Linked DNA regions of Homo sapiens: all the other regions are linked to region 4. The links come from fine-mapping of genetic effects on gene expression. A gene starts in region 4. Each other region holds a variant in brackets. All regions are shown on one strand. Distances are from middle to middle. Region 1 overlaps ELMO1 (engulfment and cell motility 1). Region 2 has its middle 97 kb from the start of MIR1200. Region 3 overlaps ELMO1 (engulfment and cell motility 1). Region 4 holds the start of ELMO1 (engulfment and cell motility 1). Region 5 overlaps ELMO1 (engulfment and cell motility 1).

The links. PIP is the estimated chance that this variant, and not a neighbour inherited with it, causes the effect.
Region 1: its variant is fine-mapped to the expression of ELMO1 in T cells (TOPMed, PIP 0.98).
Region 2: its variant is fine-mapped to the expression of ELMO1 in whole blood (TOPMed, PIP above 0.99).
Region 3: its variant is fine-mapped to the expression of ELMO1 in blood mononuclear cells (TOPMed, PIP 0.96). The same link has a PIP of 0.9 or more in whole blood.
Region 5: its variant is fine-mapped to the expression of ELMO1 in whole blood (INTERVAL, PIP above 0.99).

Annotation. Positions count from the first base shown.
Region 1 is chr7:36,873,998-36,879,129 of GRCh38, forward strand. It overlaps ELMO1 (engulfment and cell motility 1), which reads right to left. Exons shown (of 22, transcript NM_014800.11): 19 at 4,013-4,120. Among named protein-coding and RNA genes, the nearest start is that of MIR1200, 43 kb to the right of the region's middle. The variant A/C (reference allele first, on the strand shown) is at 1,952.
Region 2 is chr7:36,819,432-36,824,563 of GRCh38, forward strand. It overlaps the pseudogene NPM1P18. Among named protein-coding and RNA genes, the nearest start is that of MIR1200, 97 kb to the right of the region's middle. The variant A/G (reference allele first, on the strand shown) is at 2,041.
Region 3 is chr7:37,389,048-37,394,179 of GRCh38, forward strand. All of the region lies in intron 1 of ELMO1 (engulfment and cell motility 1), which reads right to left. Among named protein-coding and RNA genes, the nearest start is that of ELMO1, 57 kb to the right of the region's middle. RefSeq lists an enhancer at 3,462-3,571. The variant T/G (reference allele first, on the strand shown) is at 3,208.
Region 4 is chr7:37,446,142-37,451,141 of GRCh38, forward strand. It overlaps ELMO1 (engulfment and cell motility 1), which reads right to left and starts at 2,723. Exons shown (of 22, transcript NM_014800.11): 1 at 2,534-2,723. RefSeq lists silencers at 2,363-2,412, 2,423-2,472.
Region 5 is chr7:37,413,956-37,419,087 of GRCh38, forward strand. All of the region lies in intron 1 of ELMO1 (engulfment and cell motility 1), which reads right to left. Among named protein-coding and RNA genes, the nearest start is that of ELMO1, 32 kb to the right of the region's middle. The variant A/C (reference allele first, on the strand shown) is at 2,822.

The DNA of each region.
Region 1 (5,132 bases), 570 kb before region 4:
ATAGCTGCATGAAGAACCTGGTCTCTGTGGCCTAGCAGATCAGCCACATGGCATGGAATGGTGGGGAAAAGATGCGCCTTTGGAATCAGAGTGCCAGGGTTTGAATTCTACATCCACCAACCGCCTCTACTACTTTGGGCTTAAGTTTTGAGAGCCTCAACTTCCTTGTCTGCAATTTGTAACTCTAACATTATCTATCCCATATGGTTGCTCTGAGAGTTAAATCCTGATGCTGGAGCTGAGATCATTGTTGGCTTTTAATCTAGGCAGTACACAGTAGTGGGTGAAAATCTAGGCCATGGAGTTAGACAGTTACATTCAGATCTTTCTCTACTATTTACTAATCTTATGACTTTGAATAAGTTACTTAATCTTTCTGTATCTCAGTTTCCTTTCTGTAAAATAAGGACAATATTATCTACCTCTTTAGGTTGTTGAGAATAATTTATGTAAAGCCCTTAGCACAGGGCCTAGCATATAGTAAGCACTCAATAAATGCCATTTGCAATTATTCCCATTATCAATAATCAGAGTTAATTCTGTAGATGGAGAGACCTGAATTATTCGCTGTGCTTTGGTGACCCAAATTGCCCACAGTGCCTCCCTGTGTCGCCGCTCTTCGCATCCACTGGAGCAGGCTTCATCTCCACATGGGCAGGGTGAGCCAGAACTTTCCTCCCTGCCCCCTCTGATGTGGGAGTGAGGAATGCTGGCCTAGATTCTTTCAAAGGGAGGCAGTGAGGAACCCAGGGCATGGCTGGAAAGCAGTGGGGTCCTATGTTTATTGGGGGCTATGACAACCTGTAAGTCAGCTTGGGAGGGATATGGGGAGAGGGGGGATGTAAGAAGATGTCGATTTTCAAAGGCCAAATTTCCTGACAAAGAAAAGGAATACAAAAAGAAAGATTTCCTAAAGCTTTGGAGAAGACAGCCAAGGAGGCACCCTCAATCCTCATGTGCACTATCTGTATTAAGAAAACTCCATTATACTATTTGATTTATCAATAGCTCAGTATTCAGCACGGATTAACTCAAGGGGCACAAGACACTCTCTGCCTTGGTCTCAAGAGAGGGCAATGTTATGTGGCAAGAGCAATGACACTGAACATTAATTAAAAGCACGTCTCATTTTTCCAGTGGAATGAGGTTTCTGACTTTTAAGAGTTCCAAAAGGTGGCTATTTTGCTCCAGGCAGAATGCAGAATTGGAATTAAATGCAAACCAAGGTGGCAGGCCTGCAGCAAGAAACTTCAGCTTATTAGGCCGGGCTTTTTTTTTGTCTCAGGCACAGTATTGCTTCATTTCAATTCATTACATGAGTATACCCATTTCTCTAGCACATATGTGCAGAAGGATACAGTCTTACTAGTACACACACACTCTCTTTCTCTCTCTCTCACACACACACTCTCCCACAAGGTGTGGATAAATACTTGTGCAGATAAATAGATCCACACAAGTATGCATTGTTAGTTCATCTTGCAATGGATATACTGTTTTTGGAGCAGCTCTTTGGAACTTCATTTCAGAGGAAAGCAGTTGCTAAGAGTTTTGGAGGCATGGTCAGGAGGGGCTGTCACAATCCCTTCAAGAACCAGCCTTGCTCAGTGGCCACTGCGAAAAGCTGTGTGGAGATTTGCAGCTCTGGCCTTGCTCTCCTGCACTCACCCTGGCAAGCTGGCTCTCCCTGGCATCAGCACCTCTAGTTCCAGGTTAGTTATTTTCACCCTGGAGTCTTGGGGGTGAGGGTCTTAGCAGAGCTGGGGGGCATTAGCTTGTGGGCAAGACCAGGAACTGCCCCTACACAAGGCTTTGTTGCTGTGGCTGCCAATATCCTAGGTAGCTGGCCAATTAGCATGGGGGTGCTGTGCTAACACCTGGCAAACCTGTCGGTCAAGTGCCTATCTTTGGGTTGAGAAGTGATTACATCCCTATAAACATGGGGCTAAAC[A/C]CTATGTCCTGTTAGTGGGAGAGCAGATTCACTGGACCATATGGGGAGTCAAGCTGTGTTTGTTCTGTCCTGACCACTTTTCCCCTTGTGACAGGTTAAGAATGGGGCTGTGGGGGACCTCCTAGGGAGCTGCTATTTGCTTCAACCAACAATAACCTCAACTCTTTCTGTTTAACCACTGCAGAGCAGTGATTCCACATCGCTGGGCTCTGGTCAGTTCCTAGTTCACAAGGGAGTTTACACCAGTGAGCTTTTCACCAGTTAATAGCAAATGCAGAAAAACGAGAATGCTGGTGTGAGTTTTTCAGAGGGCTAATTTAGTTTAGCAGAAGGGACTGTCTTTTATCTAAGATTAGGTCCTTCTTACTTTTTTTTTTCTTGTAATCGAGGGTCCTTTCTTTTATGAAAGGGTTGTGATATTAAACTTTAGATTTTATTTTTTAATATCCTTTTTTTTTTTTGGCCCAAGTTAAAAGTTAGCAACATGCTATTAATTTACTTAAACTTTTTGTTTTTTTAAAATTATTAGTGAAAGCCACATTTGGGGAATCACAGTTCTGAAACTTGTGCATGTCAGAACTGGCGGGAACATCTGTTAAAACAGAGATGGCTGGTCCCCACCCACTGAGTTTCTGATTTAGCAGGGCTGGGAATGGGGTCTGAGAATGTGCATTGCTAAGAAGTTCCTAGGTGATACTGCTGCTGATGTTCCAGGGACCACGTTTAGAGAACCGCTGGTCTAGCTTGGCCAAGGTGGGGTGGGGAAGGCTGGAACTGTGAAAGGAGGATCCTCATTTACAGGTAGAGGCCCAGGACACCCCTAACTCCTGCCCCAAAGCAGGGAGGCATAGACAATGTCCCAGGCTCTCTGCAGCAGTGGATTTCAGATTTCTTTCTATAACCCCTGACTTAGGGAGCCAATAATGTGGGCTGGGAAGAAAGTTTTCCTATGAAAGAAAACAAGATCGTTTTCTGAACTAAGTGACATCACAAAGACCAGACTGTCCCATTTTTAAGCTGGAGGAAGAGTGAATGTTCTAGGCTATCTGCCTGAGATGTCAGCGCAGAGTCTGAATGTGTCAGGAAATTTCCCACTCATGGGTTATTTTCACCTTCAATGGCCGTGAGCTGTGAGGAAGGTAATCCAGATTTGACTTCCATGGGCCCCAGGGTAACAGGACAGAAGGTGTGAGACTCTGGGTAAGGACACTGTCTGGGACACGCTTATCTGAACACTGCAAGGTCAAGGTGACTTTTAAAGGTTATTTAAAAGTGCTCTGAATGTTTTCTCCCTCTCGGATTTTTCTACTTGGGATATCCTCTGAGGCTACGTTCATTTTATCTCATTTCTCCTCCAAATTAATTTATCACCCTTGTGTATTTCAGTGTTTCTATAATACTTGTTTAATTTGTATTGTTAACACTGTCAACCTGGCACCTGGTTCCCTGTGGGGCTAAAAGAATCCTGCACATTACTGTCTCTTCAAAAGCATGTATGTTAAAACAGACAACATATAGAAAAAGCCAAAAAATATACAAGAGAAATATTTAGCAAACAGTAGAGGTAACGGATCATCATTTTCAAAGTGTCTTTGAGGTAAACTAGCTATATTTGGCTCTGCCATTAACTCTGTGTCATAACTATGGGATACACTAAATTGTAAGGAATAAATGTTGTAGGGGTCAGGCATATAAGTTACGAAAATAAGAAATTATTTTGGGTTTTCAGAAAAAGACAGCTGACAGAATCAGGTTTGTATTGTTTTTGCTCCTTGACACAGCACCTGGATAAATAATGTAAAAAGTGGACATTTGAACCCCCAGTTTACGTCTTTCAATTAAGATACCTTTGCATCCATTTTACATTCTCCCCTATTCAGTTCCAAACCCCAAGTCCATCCAGGTCTTGTACTTGATGAGATGGCTCAGGCGACGACTTACAACTAGATGAGATGTGTTCAAAGGGCTTACTTAGGCTGATAGTTCTGTTGCGTGATATATTGTGACTAGGAAACAACCAACCGACCACCACTCAGGCCTCTGCCAAGGAGAGCTACTTACGTTTGTCCTGCAAGGAATCGTGGGGCACTTCTCCCTGAGGACTCTCTTCTAAGTCTCCGTAATGCAGGACTTTGTGATTTGGCGAAAGCCGACAATACCAAAACTTGTCTGAGAGAAAAAACACAAGTTTACAAGGTAAGTGATTGTGGTTTATCAAAATACTAGCCTGGTTATTTCTTAATACTCTTGCCTGGAGGAAACAAGCAGTTCATTTGATTTTAAGTCTTGAGGAAGAATGAATTCTAGGGCCCTGGGCAATAAATTCCCTTTTGACTTTAATATTTAGTTATCACCTGTCCTGCTTGGTATACATTTGGTAACCATTAGTAAAGTCATTGAACTCTTCAAGCTCAATAGCAATAGATTTTATGAGGTGGTGGCTTCCAGAGGTTATGTTATCACTAATGATAACCACCATGGGAACTGCTCCTTATTCATTTACTGACAAAAGAGGGAGGGAGATATAGAAAAAAAAACAGATTTCTCAGAATGTTTCTGCTTCCACTTTCCTCTCTGAGAATTTCAGACTGTTGAGACAGTTGTGTCCAAGGCCAGATTTTAGCTGATACAACAAACCCCTACCCTAGGCTACCACACGCACATTAATCATGAACGAATTGTTAGGACACTGGTAATACACATGGTGGGTGGGATTCATGAGGAAATCATCTAAATAATTCACGGATTTAGCCAAAGAATGGGGACATGCACAATCATTCTCCTCTCCAATTCCCAGAATTTACTTCTCTGGATAGGTATGACCAGGAGATTAGGGTCATCCTTATAAACAACTTCCTCAACTTTACTGCCTCAGTCTCTCAAAAGTGAGAAGAAATTTTGAGTAAGTCTATGAGGCAGGAAGAAAGAGGCAAAGAGCACTTTTTATAGGTTAGGGACTTGAACTGTGACAGCAATGCTTGTGCAGCTGTCTCCTCCAGGAAGCCCTCTTTATCCCTGCAGCCGAAGGGCCTCTCCCCATCCTCTGAGATGTTCTACAGTCTTCTTTGCACCACCAGTTTGGCTTGGACTGGCAATATTGGAGCCTAATGTTAACACCTTAGTATTTCCCATTATCTGCTACAGACCCTAGGTAAGTAACTTGCCCTTGAGGGTGTATTGT
Region 2 (5,132 bases), 630 kb before region 4:
TGATGAAGAAGATGATGATGATGATTTTGATGATGAGGAAACTGAAGAAAAAGCACCCGTGAAGAAATCTATACAAGATACTCGAGCCAAAAATGCACAAAAGTCAAATCAGAATGGAAAAGACTCAAAACCATCAACACCAAGATCAAAAGGACAAGAATCCTTCAAAAAACAGGAAAAAATTCCTAAAACACCTAAAGGACCTAGTTCTGTAGAAGACATTAAAGCAAAAATGCAAGCAAGTATACAAAAAGCATATTGAACAGTCCAGGGGACTACTAGTAAATTAAGCCCAAAGGTGGGGAGAGAGAAAAAGGAGAGACAAATATAGTCCACACTGAGTGTCATCAACAATCCAGACTAAAGTTTTCTATTTTAATCTCAATTCCCTATTCTGATTTGCCACCCATGCCTCTTCAGGCTGGAAACCATGTCACTCTTGGTTCCCCAAAGCACTTTTCTTCTGACTGCTGTGATTCAATGAACCTTGCCCTTTGCTTTCTATTACTTGTGCATTTGCCTCACCTCTGACCATGTTTTAAATCACGTTTGTATCTCCTTAGCTGCTCAATAAATATTTGAATGAAAAAAATTAACTTGAAATTGAATAAAGACTTAATATAAAAGCTAAAACTATAAAACTCTTAGAAGGAAATGTAGATGTAATTCTTTGTGATCTTGGATAGGTAACTTTTTAAAATATAACATCAAAAGCACAAAAAAACAGGTAAATTGGACGTCGTCAAAATTTTAAAAATTGCATCACCAAAGAATACTATCAATAAAGTTAAAAGACAATTCACAGATTAGAAAAAATATTTGCAAGTCATATATTTGACAAAGGGTCTAATAATAGACTATTTAAATCAACTTTGCAACTCAAAAACAAAAGACAGCAACCCAATTAAAAGTGGGCAAAGAACTTGAACAGATGTTTCTCCAAAGAAGATATACAAATGGCAAATGAGCACATGAAAAGATGCCCAGCATCATTAATCATTAGGGAAATGAAAATCAAAATTACAATGAGTTACCACTTCACTTCCACTGGGATGGCTATAATAAAGAAAAAAAAGGAAAATAAATTTTTGTGAGGATGTATACATTTGAACCTTTGTGTATTGCTGGTAGGAATGCAAAATGCTGCAGCTGCTATGGAAGTCTGGCAGTTCCTCAAAAGGGTAAATGTAGAGTTACCATATGACCTAGCAATTCAATTCCACTCCTAGGTACTATCAAGAGAACTAAAAACAGATGTACACTAACACTACCTTTATAGTAGCATTACTCATCATAGCCAAAAGTAGAAACAACCCAATCCCCATCAACTGATGAATGGATAAAAAAAAAGTTAGTGCATTCATACAATGGAATATGAGTCAGTCATAAAAAGAATGAAGTAATGATAAATGCTACAACATGCATGAAGCTTGAAAATATTATGTTAAAAAAGCCAGTCATAAAGGACACATATTGTATGATTCCATTTGTATGAAATGTCCTAAATAGGCAAATCCATAGTAACAGAAATTAGATAGTGATTGCCCAAGGCTAGGGAAAGAGTGGAATGTGGAGTGATTGCTTAATTAGTAAGGAGTTTCTTTTTGGGAGTGATGAAACATTCTGGAATTAGATAGTGGTGGTATTGGTTGCACAACATTGTGAATATACTAAAAACCACTTGTACAGTTTACAATTGTTAAAGTGGTAAGTTTTATGTTTTGTGATCTTTATCTCAATTTAAAAAATCCAAAATGAGGGTAAAAACCAAGAAAGCAGAAGCCATGGGATCCAAGAAACAGGAGATACATTGGAAAGGGTTAGGATGATAGTGAAGGAAGTTCCTAGACGCCCACTGTGCATGGAAGATAGAGCACAACCAGTTCAGTGGCTTCTGGGAGAATATCTGTGAGAAGAGGATATTTTGCTCCTGATGTGTTCAAAAGTATTGAGAGGAGATATTGAAGATTGTGGAAGAATCTGAGCAAATATAAATGAAACTAAGTGTATTCATTTGGGTTTTCCAGAAAAACAGAACCA[A/G]TAAGAGAGATGATGGATAGAAAGATACTCAAACAGACGATAGATAGATATAGATAGATGATTAGATAGATAGATAGATAGATAGATAGATAGATAGATAGATGGACGATAGATGAGAGAGAAGAAGGAAAGAAGGAAGGAGGGAGGAAGAAAAGGAAAAAAGAAAGGGAGAAAAGGAGAAAGATGAAAAGATAAAGAGATTTATTATAAGGAATTGACTCACACAGTTACAAAGGCTGAGAAGTCCCAAGATCTGTATTCAGCAAGAGACCCAGGAGAGCTGATGGTAGAGTTCCAGACTGAGTCCAAAGGCCTGAGAATCAGGAGAGCTGATGGTAGAGTTCCAGACTGAGTCCAAAGGCCTGAGAATCAGGAGAGCTGATGGTGTAAGTTCCAGTCCAAGTTCAAGTCTGAGGGCAAAAGAAGACCAGTGGTCCAGCTCCAAGATAGAGAGAGCAAATTTTCCCTTTCTCAGCCTCTTTATTTTATTCACTTCCTCAATGGATTGGATGAGGCCCACCCCATCAGCAAGGGCACTCTGCTTTACTCAGTCCACAGGTTCAAATGTTAATCTCATTCAGAAAACCCCTCACAGAAATGGCTAGAATAATGTTTAACCACATAACTGGGTACCCATGGCCTTGTCAACATGACACATAAAATCAACCATCAAACTAAGTCAGTTAAAAAAAAAATCCAGTTATTAATTTCGCAGAAAACAAATAGTTGTGCATATCCTATGTGGCTCAACTGAGAATAGCATTTATATTTGTACAGTTATAATATTAATATTAAATATTGAATTTATCAAAAACTTGACATAAGTATAACTGGAGTTTGAGGGGAAGAGAAATGTTTGTGTGTGTGTGTGTGAGAGAGAGAGAGAGAGAGAGAGAGAGAGGAGATGTGATAATGGTGGGGCAAAGAGTAAAAAAGAGCTAAATCCTTATCTTCCATAGTGGGAAGTCATTTTATGCTGCCTAATGCTGAAAATCACAAGTAGTGCTAAAAATCATATGTTATTTATTGATACGCAGGTGAAAAACAAGAGCAATAGTTTAAAAAGCTGCAAAGGTAGCCTTTTAGGAATGGAAACTTGAGGTTGTAGGTGGGGAGCAGGTTATTGTTTTGGTTCAGCTTGATTTTGGTAATAATTCTGGTAAAACAATTTGACTGTATAAGTATGCATGTATAACTTTGATTAAAAACTAAATTTTAAAAATGTATGGTATATGGAGTTGGAGAAGATCAAATAACAATAGCCTACTTTTCCCTGCTAATTTATTGTACTGTACGGACTCCAAGTTTGATTAGGGGAGACAAATTCTTTCTGCATGTGATCACATAAGTACGTCATGTGTGTCTGAGTACATGTGTCTGCACGCATGTGTATGTGTGTTCATGGGCATAATAAGATATGCTTATTCTTACATGTGCCAAAATGAAGAGAGAGATATTCATACATATTGATGTAGACTGGCTTGTAAGCAGCAAGAGAGTAAATAATGTGATGCTTACAAGAAAAGATAAGAGACAACCGAAAGTAATGGAATTCGTTAAGGAAACCATAAGCAGACATTAAGTTTTTAAAAATCTAACTAAACAGCTCTTCTTTGGAATGTGAAGGCATTGTTAGATGAAATAATTGAGGATATGGAAATGACTGCTTTTTTTTTCTTTGCACTCGCTTTCTATAAATAGAGAAATATAATTATCATTGTCAAAAACAATGTATTATTCATTATGAAACTCATAAACACAATTAACAACAAGTTCTTGTCAGTTTCTGAAACAAATCAATGAAAGAAACACTGAAGGAAATAAATATTTAAATGCCATCTGATATTTTTAAAAAGAAAATTTGTATTCAAAATATATAAATTTGGTTGATTAAAAATTAGCAACTGTTTTAGAAGGATTTGTGTGGTAGCATAGCATTGGAGTTGGTTGCATCCTCCTAGGAAGAAATGAGCTTTGTTGAGATAGAATTCTGGAAGGGAAAGTATACAGCTGATTTTAACCCTGGAATCTTAACTCTCCATGTCTGCTAAGAACCACCTGGCACAATTCTCAGAGGAATAGTTTGGCTCAGACTGGATAGAGATAACCAAAGGACTCATTGAGAAAATCTAGACCCAAACAATTAACGAAAACATACGCGGTGGCTCACGCCTGTAATCGTAGCACTTTGGGAGGCCGAGGCGGGCTGATCACCTGAGGTCGGGAGTTCGAGACCAGCCTGACCAACATGGAGAAACCCTTCTCTACTAAAAATACAGAATTAGCCGGGCATGGTGGCACACACCTGTAATCCCAGCTACTCGGGAGATTGAGGAAGGAGAATCACTTGAACCTGGAGGCAGAGTTTGCAGGGAGCTGAGATCGTGCCACTGCTCTCCAGCCTGGGCAACAATAGCAAAACTCTATCTCAAAAAAAAAAAAAGAAAACATATACGTATACAATAAATAAGAAACAAATAGATATAAACTCTGGTGTTAATCCCTGGCTTATTCTGTCTGAAATTGTGTTAAAGCAGCAGTCCCCGACCTTTTTGGCATGAGGGACCCGTTTCGTGGAAGACAACTTTTTTCCACGGATGTGGGTGAGGGCATGAAACTGTTCCACCTCAGATCATCAGGCATTAGTTAGATTCTCATAAAGAGCACACAACCTAGATCCTTGCATGCACAGTTCACAATAGGGTTCATGCTCTTAAGAGAATTTATCTAATGTCTCTGCTGATCTGACAGAAGGCGGAGCTCAGGCTCTAATGCTCGCTCCCGTCACTCACCTCCTGCTGTGTGGCCAGGGTCCTAACAGGCTGTGGGCCAGTACCAGTCCGCAGCCCAGGGACTGGGGACTCCTGTATCATACCCATCCTTGGCCTGTTCTTTTCCCAGGTGTTACAAATTTCTCTTGACTTATAAAGGAGATGACCAATTGTTCACCCTTGTTAAAACTTGGTTAAGGCTGGGCACGGTGGCTCATGTCTGTAATCCCAGCACTTTGGGAGGCTGAGGCAGGTAGATCACGAGGTCAGGAAATCGAGACCATCCTGGCTAACATGGTGAAACCCTGTCTCTACTAAAAA
Region 3 (5,132 bases), 57 kb before region 4:
TTCCGGTTTCCTCCTTTGAGCAAACTAGGCTTTCTTTTTTAAACTTTAATTCAAGGAAAGAAATAACAATGCAACACCAAAGCACTACTTTCCACAGCAGCAAATTAGAGAGGGCTAATTTGTGGGCATGGCTGTGCCCTGTTATCTGTACCTTGTCACTTTAATTCAGCACAACCCAAACCCGGCAATTCCTTTCATTTTGACTTTTCCACAGAGCAGAATTTTAGCCTTCACGCTGGGTTTCAAAGAGTCCAAAATAAAACCAGCCCACATTAAGCAAAACAGCCACATAAAACCTTTCCTTTATGTATGGAAGAAAGGACTTTCCAAGTTCAAAAGGATTTTTTGTTAAGCAGTCTTGGTAATGTTTTTAAAAGTCTATTTTAAAAAGTTGAGTGTTTTTCCCTCCATTGTGTTGATGCACATGTAGACCAGTATGTCTATTTCCTCTAGCGGAAGCAATGAAGTTGTCACCTGAAATGTGTACACTTCAGTCCACTGCTAAAACACCTCAGGCAAGCGAGAGTCTCGAATCGTCCAGGTAGAAGACAAACCTTCCATCCTGCCACACTGTGGAGCATGAAGAGGCAGGAATAATAGCTTGGTCACAGGTAGTAGGGAGACACAGGACTCTCCAGACCCTGATATTCAGCTTTTGCTGGGAAATCCAGTTCTCCTTTAACCATAGGAAATAGGCTGTCAGGAGTGTAGGGGAACCAAATACTTCCACCTCTACCTAGGGGTATGCGTAAAGAATGAAGCACGGGCATCCCCCGAGATTCTTACTAATTCTCCAGCATGTGCAACCCTCATTAGGGAGAGCTGCTCTTTGAAACAAAAATTAATCACCGTAAGCAGAAAGGCACGCTTCCCACAGTCTCTCCCATGTTGCCCAACTTCCAAAATCTCATAGCCTTCCCTATCCCACCTCTTGAAATTCAGATTCTCTAGCGCTTTCATCCCCTGAGAAGTCACCCATGCTCTGGTTCCAGAAATCATTTGGTTAAAAATCAAAAGAACAAGAAATGTCTGTGTATAGGCTATCACAGCAGCAAGTTGTAAAACTGCACCATGGACGTAAAAATGCAGACTTTTTAAAAACACAAACGGTAACTGGAATTTAGACCTGGTGCCTCCACCCTAAATCTGTATTTTGCAGCTGTCGCTATGAGCATAAAGTCAGCCCCTTAACTGAGCAGGAACCCAAGAAGCATTTCTTCACAGCTGTCAGGCTTGCGCCACTTGCATGGAGTATGAACGGTTTCACATGAAGCCCGCACTCACTGTGCAAGGGAAGGTCTCGCAGAGTGGAGGGTGGCAGAACTCCTCCCATCAAGTAGGAAATCTGACTGACAAAGACACAGGTCAGTAGGGTGCCCCAAGGAGCACATTTCTTATTACACTCTGCCTTTTTTTTTTCTTCTGACTCCCAGACGCACAGAGGCCCAGGGACAGAAAAAAAGCAAAAGCTACAGGTTCCTAAGCAGACTCAGGCCCTACCTGTTTTGAATAGCATGTGTTTCCAGTAATTCTATTTCTAATCCTTTTCATGGTCCCCTAGGTTAGGACTCATCACAGTCCCTGACCCAGTAAAAAAATCAAACAGATATCAAAGACTAATGTCAGAGTTCATATAGGGCTTATGGGTTTGTTTGCAAATGGAAACCAAGGCTCCGCTCTTTGAGACTTATAGGTGCTTACCACCCCCCAGCCCCCATGCTATTGCTTCTATCCACCAGGTGTTGAGGGCCATGAGCTTATCAGGAGTTTGCACTTTTAGATGAGAGGACAATCTGGTTATAGACAACTGCCAGGGCACACAGGTGGCTGGGGCAGGACACCAAATTGACCTGGTGACCCTGTAGACACTGTTTCCCATCCCCAACTGAATATGTGATAGAGGGAAGTGGTTCAATGTTCACATCAAGCCCAAATCAGGTATATTCTGGGAAAGTAGTCCCTTCCTTCCTTCCTTCCTTCCTTCCTTCCTTCCTTCCTTCCTTCCTTCCTTCCTCCCTCCCTCCCTCTCTCCCTCCCTCTTTCCCCCCACCGCTCTTTCTTTACTTCTTTCTTTCTTTTGTATTTTTGAGACAGAGTCTTGCTCTATTGTCCAGGCTGGAGCGTGGTGGCTCGATCTCAGCTCACTGCAACCTCCACCTCCCGGGCTCAAATGATTCTCCTGCCTCAGCCTCCTGAGTAGCTGGAATTACAGGTGCCCACCAACATGTCCGGCTAATTTTTGTATTTTTAGTAGAGATGGGGTTTCACCATGTTGCCCAGGCTGGTCTCGAACTCCTGACCTCAAGTGATCTGCCACCCCGGCCCCCCGAAGTGCTGGCATTACAGGCATGAGCCACCGCACCCAGCCCAGAAGTAGTTATTTATAAAGGCATTTGTGTGCAAGGCCTTATAATATTATGACAAAATATAAAATATAAAATTACACTAAGTTGAGGACTCTTATGTTCGACCAGTGTAAGCCAGTCTATATATGTACTTCCTCTCTAAAAATTCTTTGAAGAAAACAGAGTTTATACCAGGAGGTGCACACGGCCTTCGTTACTCATGGAAGGACCCACACCTTCATGGTGGGTCTCTAGCCACTGAGCCATCCAGAGACCCCAGTTGGGGGCCGACTTGCATGCCACATTCCTGATTTCAGGAACCTCTTCAGAAACAGCCTCTGCTACTCAAGAGCTTCAAGATTTGGGCAAGCCCCCATGTAACACTCACCAGGGAAGAGCTGGCTTTTATACAAGGAACGATTTGGGACCACAGGTTCCAGGGCTAAGTACCCAGAAGGCCTACAGGAGAAGTGGCCATCTGTGCAAGAAAGAGCAGCAAAGCCTGTAGGGAAGTGTGTGTACCCCCCTAAGAAAGCATTCAGTTGTAGAAAGAGAACTGTAATCTCCACACACATGCAATGGCCCTGCGTGGACTTTGCACCCAGAAATTGAAGAACTTGAGTTTCCAGCAGGGAGACACACTGTTCTCAAATGAGAAATATAGATATTCTGGCTAAATTTCGAAAGGAAGTCTGCAACCCGGGGAAGTTAAAGAACTCTAGAGATAATAAAATATTCCAGGATGGTAAACTTTTTTTTTTAAAGTCTTTCCTTCCTCTGATGTGGCTCCAGACTTCGAAACAAAACAAAACAGAAAGAGGGAAGTTGCTACTCTAGAGGTCAGCATATCTCTAACTCAAGT[T/G]CCCACATGGCCAGTGGTCTCTGAGGCAGTACAGGGTAGCAAGGAGAAGCTCTAAGGAACCTGAATAAAGTGGCATATGCCTCTGACAGTTAACGTATAAAACCAACCCAGAAAGAAGGAACACAAGATCCCAGATCTGCAAAGCCATTCGAGAGTCCATGGGGCTTTGCAGTTGGCAGAACTTGGTGACAACCTAGCTGAGGCCATTCGCATATCTAAAGCATGAGCACGTCAGTCAGAAGCAGAGGTGGCCAACCATGAAATCTGAGCAAATTGGCGCTGCTAGGCTACCCCAGCTCTATACAAGGGAGGGCAGCCCCACTCTAGCCTCTCTCTTCCACATCTGCTGCCAGGTGTGAGGCCTCCCTATAGAATGGAGAGATGGGGCTGTCCTGACTCTGGAGGCCTCTGGACTTTCTGATCACACTGGCTAGCTCTTCTCACTGTGATTCTATGTTTACCAAATGCTCTCCTGATTACAACTCCTTCCCTTGACGTCTGCCTACAGGGAGGAAATCTGCTAGTCTGAGTACCAGTGGTCTTGATGATATTTCCTACAGTAAATCATCAAATTGGCCTCTGGCTCCCCAGTCACTAAAAACCTGCTAATTGCATCTGCCCTGGGAGGTAACTGTGCTCCCCTGGAGCCTGCTGTCTTCTGAGCCTGTTTGCACTTAAGGCCACCTCCTGAGGGTTGCTGAGAAAGGATGCAGGTTTTCTCTTGGTTGTGCCCCTTGGCTTCACCACCTCCCCACCCCCAACTCATTCCAAGGTCTACCAAGACCACTTCTGCACACATTTCCATCAGGACATAATACAAAACATCTCTCCTGGGCAACTTGTCCATGAGGAAAAGTCTAAGCTTGTTCATTAATTTTTATTCTTTCTTAAAAATTTTTATTTTGAAGCAATCTCCAATTCACAAGAAATTGCAGATATAATATAAATAAATTTCATTCTTCCTGAACAACTTGAGAGTAACTTGCCAACCCAGTGGCTCACCACCCACTAATACCTTAGTGAAGATTGCCAACAAACAATGGCATTCTCCTATATAACCACCACACAAGCATTCAAATCAGAAAATTAACATTTAATACACATTCTATTTGCCCTTGTGACCTCGTTCAAATTTCACCAAATGTCCCGATAATGTACTTTATAGTAAATTATTTCACCAAATGTCCCAATAATAGTACTTTATAGTACATTATTTAAAAAAAATCCAATTCAGAATCACACATTGCTTTAAGCTGTTGTGTCTCTTCAGTCTCTTCATTCTAAAGTGCTTCCCTCAGTTTTCCTCTGCCCTTGACCCTTTTGAAGACTATAGACTGGTTATTTTGTTCCTCAATTTGGGTTTGTCTGGTGCTGCTGCTACTGATTAGATTCAGGTTATGCATTTTTGGTGGAAATATCACAGAAAAGTGAAGCTGCAGCCTTTCCCTTGCCTGCTATCAAGCGGTGCCTGGTTTTGGTTTATCCAAAAACCAAAATCACTGTTCATTTGTTCCTCAGCTTGCTTTTTTATGCTCAGATCCCCACAAGCCCATAAAGATTGGCCTACCTACTCCAAGGAGAGGCTGAACTAGAAGGGCCTTGGGCATATCTTGATCTGTATCTTCTCTGCCTTGTATGGTATAAGTGCTCCCTGCTCTGCCCCCTAGATGGGATAAATAGGTGGAAAGGAGAGATGATATGGTTTGTGGACAAATAGCAGAATACTTTAAGTCCTACTCACACAATTTTTCCATAGCTAAGTAGAGGTAAGCTGCCTTAACTTTTTGATGCAAGAAATAACCCCCTTTTTACTCATTCATTCATTCATTCATGCCACTTATATTTATGGGGAGCCTCTCCCTGTTAGGCCCAGGGACACTAATATAATGTTGGACAATACCCTGCCCCAAAGGAGAGAATGGTCT
Region 4 (5,000 bases):
CCTGGTATATTTCCCTGGTGGATCTCTCCCAGTATAGCCACCTCTCATTTAGTCAGTCAACAAACACTTATTGAGCACCGACATCATGCTAAGAATCCATCCAGGTTCTGGAGCTGTAAACAAGACAAGGTAGTCACTACCCTCATGGAACTTCTGCTCTAACAGGGAGAGAGACAATACTCAAAATACACCAATGACTGTATAATGCCAGGGAGTAAAAGGTACTAAGACAAAAAACTGAGTAACATAAGAGGCCCAGGGAGTGTCTGGCTGCTATTTTATATGGGGTAGCCAGGGAAGGCCCCCTATAAGCTGACAACTGGACAGAGACCTGAAAGAAGCAGGGGAAGTGAGTCATCTGGACATGTGGGAGAAAAGCTCCTCCTGTAATATCATGGGCAAAGGCCCTAGGGAGAGAACTCAGTGAAAAAGAAGAATGTAAGACGGTGAGGGTGCCTGCAGTTACCAAGGACAGTAAGCATGACCATCACTAGAACTGCCCATCTTCTTGCCCAATGACTGCTCCAGGCCCTGAGTTTCCCCAGACTCCCATCCGGGTCTGCCTCCGAGCCTGCCCCTCCCTGATACCTACCATACTTCTTGTTCTCCAGTTCAGTACCCTCCTGACACAACCCCTCCCCAAGAGTCCCAGCAGTCCAGGTCATTTTCTCAAAATTTACCAACCTAATAAAAACAAACAAAACAGAGTAGAAACAAGGCAGCATGCACATTTAACCACAGCCTTCCAGAGATAGGAAATGTACAATAATAAAGAGTAAAGCTTCAAAAGGTCAGCTATAAGAAAAATTAAAAATATGTGATGTTTCTGCAGGGGATCTGGCCTCCTAACTTACCATTATTTTCCCCCAGATCTGTAAATTATGGGACATTAATGCTTGAAACAACCTTGGAAAGTAGGCATGGAGGTGAGATAATATGAGAACCCTGGCCAGAGGAGACCCCAATAATAGCTGCTGCCGGTTTTTGCAATCTCAAAGTGATTCTGAGAAGGATTATATCCCTCTATGTCCCAAAGTTGCTCGCAGGGTTTTGGTGTGTAAATACAGGTCATTAATTACTTTTATAGAAGCAAAAGAGAAACACTCAGATATTCTTCCATAGCTTCATCCCCAAGTCACTGGCAGCGCCCAACAGGAAGCCTCCGCTTCTGGAGGCCTCAACCCGTCTTAGATTATCTGAAATCTTAACCATAACGAATTAGGCCCGAATCATTCAAGGCCAGCGGTGTTGGGAAGCCCATGATCCAGCGCGGGGGGCATCCCAAATATATTCACTGAGTCTCGGGAGCCGTCCAGGGACTCTCAGAGCTGGGTCACTACCTGGGACCAAGCCTGAGGCTGGTCCTTTAGGTCAAGGCAGGTCCCGACCCGCCTCCAACTTCAAATGGCCCCCTAGGCGGGAGAGGGTCACTGGGCGGGGAGTTCCTGGCTGTGCGGTCACACACACACACACCGACTCACACACACACCCACAACACCCCCCCCACACACACACACTCACACACACACCGACGACACACCACACACACATACATACGCGCGCGCGCACACACCACACACACACACACACACACACACACACACACACGCCGCCTCGCGCGCGCTCGCGGCACAGCACCGACTTCCCAACCCCAAACACACGCGCGCACCCCCGGGACAGCTGAGTTCTGTATTTCCTCTTCCTCAAAGCGACTCCGGCGATCGCAGTCGCCACTCTCCGCTCCGATTCCCGGGCCCCCTGGCATGCCGCCGCCCCCTTCTCTGAAGGCGCGCCCGGTGCGTCCCCTCTCCGAAGCCGAGATTTCCACGAAGCTCCACAAAGCTCCCCGCCGCCTCTCTCGGTCTCGGCGGAGACCCCGGTGTGTCCCCGGGAGGAGAGTATTTACTAACCAGAACCTCAGGGGCTCCCGGCTGCCCAGACCGCCCTCTCCGGCCCTCCTGGCCCCCATTCCTCTGGCCCATCACCGCCCCCTCCCACGAGCGCGCTCGCCGGGGGATTCCCTCCCATCCCCGAGTGCAGGAGAAGACGCCGAGTCTGAGCCGCAGCCGCTTCTCTAGCTCTATAGGAATCTTGACTCCAAGATCCCAGCCCCACATCCCCCGTCCCCAGTAACCCCGCGCCAGCGTCGCAACCCTCCCGCGCCCCCCCTCCCGCAGACCCTGGTCGAAATGTCTCGGCGGGCTCCCGGGCCCCGGGCCCTGCGCTTCATCCGCGGGCGCCGCACCTCCAGCGCCCCCTCCCTCCGCTCCCACTCCCACTCCCGCCATCCCCGGAGCTCAGACTTCCCCAACTGCAGAGCGCCCCGACGCGCCCGCAGCCCTCACCCTGCCGAGCGCGGCGGCCACCCCCGCCCGAGCCGCGGCGCCCCCAGGGAGGAAACAAAAGTGTCTCCGCGGCGCCCGGAGTCCCCCGGAGCAGGACGCCTCCTCCCGGCCCCAGTCCCGGCCCCCTCCCCTGCCGCGCCGAGGTCAGCGAGTCGGGGCGCGGCGCCAGCCCAGGAAACTTTACGAACCTGCTTGGGGTCGCAGGACAGCAGCGGCAAGGGTTCCCGGCGATCAGAGCTCCGGCGACCCGCCACCATTGAAGGGGAACTGGAGGCTCTGTCGCCCAGCGTGGGGCCGCGGCGGCGTGGGTGGCTCTGCCTCTATCCTGTGCCCATCCTCGCCCGCTCCCGCTCGCCCCAGCACACGCACTTACACTCTGGGTCGGCCGGCTGCTGCACCGCCGGCTGCCGCTGCTCTCACTTCCTCTTCCTTCCTCCTGCTGGCCAGAGACACATTTTGCATCTGCAAGGCATCCGGAGATCAGCCGCGAACTCTCCTCCCGAGCGGACGCTGCGGAGTTGCAGCCGCCGCCCCCGGCACCTGCGCCAGGACACTCGTGGTCTGCGCGTTCGCCTTGCGCCCGCACCCTGCCTGGTCCCTGCCCACTGCACTTTGCCTAGGGGGATGCCCACGACTTTTTGAAGTCCCCCTACTTAAAAGACAGAAATGTCAAACACCATGCATGCCTCAGATCTGCTATAAATAATATGTGTGCAGAGCATGACTTCGATGAGCTCACACACGGCGTTTGGAGGCACTAATTAACTCCGTCACCCTCATAGCGCCATCTCCGGGAGGCCAAAAGCGAGTAGCATCTTTTCACATCCTTTTTTAATTTTTGGCAACCGGTTCCGGATATTAAGGGGAAACTTCGGTGGGCTGTTTGAACGCTACTTTAAGACGTGTTTGTTTTGACGCTGTGCCTCTACCCTTGGACAGAGTGGCAAAAAAAAAAAAAAAAAGTTTCCTCCCTCTCCGTCGACATCTATGTATTTACTAACCCTGCAATTGAAACTACAAGATGTATTTCTAACCAATTAAGCCAGGGACTTCCTAATTTTGCATAACTTTGCATAAGGCAAGACGTTCCACCCATAATTTGATATTTAGAATAAATTACTTAATTCATGCAACCTACTTAAATCATTTTCAAAGCAGAAATCAAAAACGTTAACTCCCAGCCTAGCTGGCAGGAGGGAAGAGGGTTGCAGGCGAACCACCTGTCCTCCCCCAGTTCAGAAATACCTACATTGGCTCTACCGGAAAAGTCAAAGGCAGTTCGGCATTTTCTTCTAATTGGCAAAGGAAATAAGTCGGGGGCAGGGAGGCATCAGAATCAAGGTGGAAAACTAAGCTCCCTTTTAAGATCTTCCCCCTCAAGAGCCACAGGCAGCTGTTGAGCACTTGAAATGTGGCTATCCCTGAGATGTTCTGTAAGTGTAAAACAGACATACAATTCAGTATTTTTAAAATGAATGTAAACTAACTTGTTAAGTATGTTTATGTTGATTACATTATTGCAATACATGAGAATAGTCTGATGTAGTAAGTCAGTTGGATTCGTCATGTGTTGGGTTAAGATATAAGCATATATAAGATTAATTTCACCAGTTTCTTTTTACATTTTCTGATGTAGCTACTAGAAAATGTAAGGCTACACATAGGCTCTCATTAGTGGCTCACCTTATACTTTTAATGAACAGCTCTGATCTAACTCCTTATTATACGCATGACTCTGGGAGGCAGTATTAGTATCAAGAGTGCCTGGGTCCAGATGGTTATAAGCCAGTAACTAAAGCAGGGTGACTGCAGGAAAGCAACTTAACTTCTGTATTTCCTCATCTATAAAACAGTAATGATATAATAACAAAAGTCAATAGCACCAACTATTAAATGAAGTAATTTAATAAGTAGTCAGTAAATGGAGCCTTTACTAACGATGCTCTGAGACACTTGTAGTGATAAGTATGAATTTGATCTACAACCTTGTAGCTAAGGCATATAAAGACCTTAACTTTAGTGCATGCGTGGTGAGCACTCAGTAAACATTAGCTGTCATAATTGTTCCCTCCTTGCACAGCAATTATGCAAATCCACTCCCCTGTAACCTTTGGTCCCGGGTCTTCACATCTTTCCTCCATGAAGTAGTCTTTCAGATCTTTGAAGTCAGCCCTCAAATTTTACCTAAACACTCTCTTTTGAGGATTAACCATCCTCAATTATTCTGACTCTTCTTCATGTGACATGGCTTCAAGTCTCTCTCATTTGAGCCATCTTCTCCCAGAAGAATATCTGTCTCTGCCCTTTAAAAAAAAAAAAGAAAAAAGAAAAAAAGAAAAAAAAGTAGTCTTATAGATTAATTACGTAATTAACCATTAGCAAACACAATACAGCCTGAGATCTTCTCTCTCTCTCTCTTTTTTTTTTTTTCTCAAATACATCTCAGTGTTGATAGGAGTGCAAGGGGAAGACTGGAAATTCTTTACAGTGTTACGGTTAGGCCATGTGCGGGAACATGGAGTTGATCTTTGGAACCAAAGTTCCTGATCCACTTTCTCTAAGTCCCTTAGGATTTAATTCAGGCATCCAGTGTCTCCCCATATCCATGGATTACATTAAAATATTAAGATGCCACATGACATCCCACTAAGGAGC
Region 5 (5,132 bases), 32 kb before region 4:
ATGTTAGCCACCACACCAGGCCACTTCAGCATGGCAAGAACAGAGGGAAACTGTGAAGTAGCAAAGTGAAAAGGTATATGACAGAAGTCAATTTACCTCCACTTTAATATCAAAATAATATTTTAATATAATTAATATCATTTAATATCAAAATAATATTGAGTGAATGATTCCATAATGAATCATGGAATTCATTTGAATGATTCATTCCATTCATTTTCCACTAAGAAAATTAGAAAACATTATTTGATATTAGCAGCCAACATCCATATCTTATCAGGTCTGTGGGATTGGTAATGGGAAATTGAAATATGCTAAACAGTACCTCTTAGTATCCTGCTGGAAAATCTTTCTATGTTTAGGGACAACTACAGAAATATTCACCAAAAATATCCGAGGGGGAAAACCCCTGTACATTACATGTAGAATATTAACACCTACAAGGTGGAGAAGAGAGAGGACGGATAAATTCATTAATCTAAATTAAGCATATCCAGGTCACTGGCTATGGTGGATACTTGTTGGGGCACACATACACCAAGTCACTCTTCTTAAAAATTATCTAATGTTTGTTCTGGCATTCTCTGATCGCCACCCTGCTGGTGTGTTGGGGGAATCTGCCCTGTGGCCAACTCCAAAGTCCAATCCTGTTTGGCAGAGACAGAAAAAAAGAAACCCTAAATGACCCAGAGAGTGGCTGAATCAATCTAATTCTGTAACTCACCATACCTCTAATCTTTTCAATGATATAAGCTTTTATTGTTTAAGCCAGTCGGCATTCAATTTTCTGTTTCTTACCATCAAAGTCATTCTACCTGCTGCATTGGAAAAATCTACCACACATCCCTGGGTATGTTACAATGAACCTTTCCCTGTGGGAATAAAACAAGAGCAAATAAAGAAGTAAACGCTGGGCAGGAACATTGCAAAAACACTAATAATCCTTTTTTTTCTTCCTGCAGACTGCAATGCACGTAGCTTGCAGTAAAAATCTTGAGAAATATCTAAAGCCAAAAAAGCTATTTAATGGTTTAAACCAGTTATCTAAGTTGATTTGACCTTGGTATTACCAATTACACAAAACCAAGTAATATCCTACCTTCTGACATACATACTTTGGGGCCTTGGTACTCATCTTCATGGCAAGTAAGCTGATTCTTAGTTATATGCATACAAAGCCTGTTAATTTTTAAATCCACACTCATTTCTCTTGCAATCTGGAGCCTTGTTGGAATATCTCTCACTGCTTTCAGCTACTGCCTGAGCAAATTAGCATGCATGTACTCCTGAACAAAATAGATTGAGCAAAGCGAATCTGTGGCTTCCAAAGTTATGTTACGTGAAAATACAGAGGTCTTTGGAATCACTGAAAAGTTCTGGGCTGTATGTGCATTTCTGTCTTCAAATGCAAAGATGTCCCTACATCTTCAACATCAAGAGTGTAGGGTTTAAGAGCATAGTTCCAGAGTCAGAGACTACGTGAGTTCAACTCTTGGCTCTACCACTTTTAAATTGTGTCGACTTGGCAAGTTTATTTCCCCAGTCTCAAGTCCTTATTATAAAATGTGAGTTATGATAGACAGTATGTAAAGTCTAGCGTGGATATAAAAATTTAATGATCGTAATAATAATTCATATAAAGCAGGCAGCACAGTACCTGGCACATAATAAAGGTACAACAGATGTTTCTTGCTGTGATTGTAATATCTGCAATTGATACTGGAAAAGAAAATAATTAATGCATGAAAAAATGTATCTTCCCAAAGATATATCAGGGCTTCAGGGAAAAGAAACGTGAATTAAAGTAATAATAACTCTCAATATAAAGTGAGTGGATCCAACTTAAAGTTAAACATTAATTCTTGATTATTTGCTTTGGGAAGAGGAAGGAACAGAGTACATTAAAAATAAATAATACCCCAACAACTCATAAACCCAATAACTACAGCACAGCTTCAACATGTCTTAGAACAAAATTCCCAAAACAACAAGAGACCCATGTACAAATTAAGTTAAAAACATATTCCATAATGAAATCTACAGTCCTAAAAACCAGCATTTCAGATTATCAGTAACATTAAATGAGCATACAAATTCAAACCTGTGTTTTCAGATTTGCGGCTGACCTACAACAGAAATAAATGAACTAACTAGAGATAACTCCTTTATTGGGCTTCCATCTAAAGCTAAGCTTTACTTAGGCTTTCAAATTGTTGCACTTACTTCCTAAATCAGATATGCCACCAAAACTGCCCACTTTTGTCAACTGTCAGGAAAACTGACAATACGAAGTTCACAAAGACGAAGCAGGGAAGAAAATAGCAATTTGACTTGCAGTCCACTCTCAGGTTTTAACCGTATGGAAAATTTTATATACACATATATTTTCCAAAGTTATGGAATATGGTTTAGAATCTCAGGAATCCCATTCTCACTGAATAATTAAACTGGGAGAATGAGAGGTTTCACACCATGACAATGCCACTATCAGAACTTACTGAACCCCAGAAAGGACCTATGGCCACCTCACCCAGAGGAGCAGGCTTGTCCATGCACACGCACAGACCACAGTATGAATGATGCCCCTGGAACTGGATAATGCATAATCTCCATTTCTTAGATTCCCGCCCTAAAAGGAGGGCCACATTTGCTTACAACAGCTCAAGGCCTAGATTCTCTGGAATTTTCCCAAGAGAGTTATTTTGCATTTGCTTACAATTTGAAAGCCTAAGTAAAGCTTAGCTCTAGATGGAAGCCCAACGAAGAAAGTATCTCTAGTTAGTTCATTTATTTCTGTTATAGGTCAGCTGCAAAGAGTAGC[A/C]TAAGAGATTTTAATCAAGCAAATACTTGGAGCAAAATTAGTGCTGACAACAATCTTGTAAGCAAAATTTGTGTGCAGGTGAGTCAGAATGTGTTTTGTGGCACTGAAAGAGTTAACCACCTGTCCTATCAACAGTGTTTACTTTTGTGTTTGGCTCATTCACTTCCTCAGTTTCTCCACAAACCTAGCTTATGAAATCAAATGACTGCAAGCAACTAGCTGTAAAAGCTAAACCCCTACTGAGCACTTTCTATGAGCGTGATACTCTGCCAAGCATGATTTCATTTAATTCTCTCAACGATCCTAGAAGAGGGCACCGTTTTACAGCCAAGGAAACTGAGGCACAGAAGTTTTGCTGGTGGACACACCACTGAAGAGGGGATAGAAAGACTGGACCAGAGGCAGCTGTTATGCATGGAAAGGCGTCCCCTGAGAAAGACACGTTGAAGTCCTTTCCTGCTATCTGTGAATGTGACCTTATTTGGAAATAGGTCTCTGCAGACATAATCAAGTTAAAACGAGGTCATTTGGGCAGGTGCTAACCCACTAGGACTGTTATCTTTATAAAAAGAGGAAGATGTCTACTAAAAAAATGCAAAAATTGGCCAGGCGCGGTGTCTTACGCCTGTAATCCCAGCACTTTCGGAGGCCGAGGTGGGAGGATCACGAGGTCAGCAGATCGAGACCATCTGGCTAACATGGTGAAACCCTGCCTCTACTAAAAATACAAAAACAAAATTAGCTGGGCATGGTGGTGGGCGCTTGTAGTCCCAGCTACTCGGGAGGCTGAGGCAGGAGAATGGCATGAACCCAGGAGGCGGAGCTTGCAATGAGCCAAGATCACGCCACTGCACTCCAGCCTGGGAGACAGAGTAAGACTCCGTCACACACACACACACACACACACAAGCAAAAATTAGCTGGGTGTGGTGGCACACACCTGTAGTCCCAGCTACTCGGGAGGCTGAGGCAGGAGAATCGCTTGAACCTGTGAGGCAGAGGTTGCAGTGAGTCGAGACGGCACCATTGCACTCCAGCCTGGATGACAGAGCAAGACTCTGTCTCAAAAACAAAAGAGGAAAACGTCATGCAAAAACAGACACACAAGAAGGCAGCCATATGAAGATGGAGGCACAGCTTGGAGTGATACTGCACAAGCCAAGGACCACCTGGGGCCACCAGAAGCTGGAAGGGGCAAGGAAAGACCCTCCCCTGGAACCTTCAGGCCAACTCCTTGATTTTGGACTGCTAGTTTCTAGAGCTGTGAGAGAACAAATCTGCATGGTTTTAAGCCACCCAGTTCATCAAAAGATGTTAAGGGAGCCCCAGGAAACAAACTCAACATTGCAGGCTCTCCCCAGCTACTCTTTCCTGCCTCCATTTTCTTTCCACTTGACCTGACCTATCTGCTAAGAGACAGAAACCAAAATTTTCATTCCACCTTCTTTTTCTGGACTTGAGATTGCTACAGATAGAAAGTGCAGCACATTTTGAACTGTCTTTAACAGTGTGTTTTTTAAAATTAATTTTCACATTAGAGCATTCTACCCCTAAGTATTTTCTAGATCAGCTCAGGCATCTCTGCTCCCCATACCTCTACCCCTGACAGCAGCCTGCAGCACCACAGTACTCCAAGCAGTTAGCAACTTCAAAACAGATTTTCAAAGTGCAATATCTGGTGGCCTGGCCCAGTACATTGCAATAAGGTAAGGCCCGTAGGGAGATTCCAGAATCTGGAACTGGATCTGCCCAGGCCCCTGGGGTGAGCAAGACCTCTGGCAAGGAGAAAGAGCTTCAGTAGTGGGAAGGGACTGTGCTGTGCCAGTGCAACTCTGTATCTGGTGAATAGCAACACCATGGATGCGTCAGAGTCAGCTCAGATAACCTCGGTCAGATGCTGACCTGCAGAAGTCTCAGGCAGGGCCAAGCGTGGAGATGGAAAATCCAGAAACACACAGATGCGGGCAGGCAGAATCACAGAAGTCATCTCGCAGGTATTATAAGGAGGTGTCAGTCATCAGGTTAAGCGTGGGAGGCAAACTGCAGCTTCTGCAGTGAAGGGGCAGTGAGGCGAGATGGGGATGGTAAGAGTCAAGTGCCCAGCTCTCAGGGTGCTGCAGAGGCTAGGAGTCGGGTACTCGCAACAAGACTAAGCAGCTACGGAACATGAGTCGAGGGAAGAAGAGCACCCAGCGTGATTGAGATCTCTCCAGTGTTGGGTCCCAGGGTCCTAGAGACTCCCCCATAACCCCACTCCTACCCCCCAGGACTGAGCCCGCAGAGGAGGATGCTGGCAGGGAGAACAGAAACA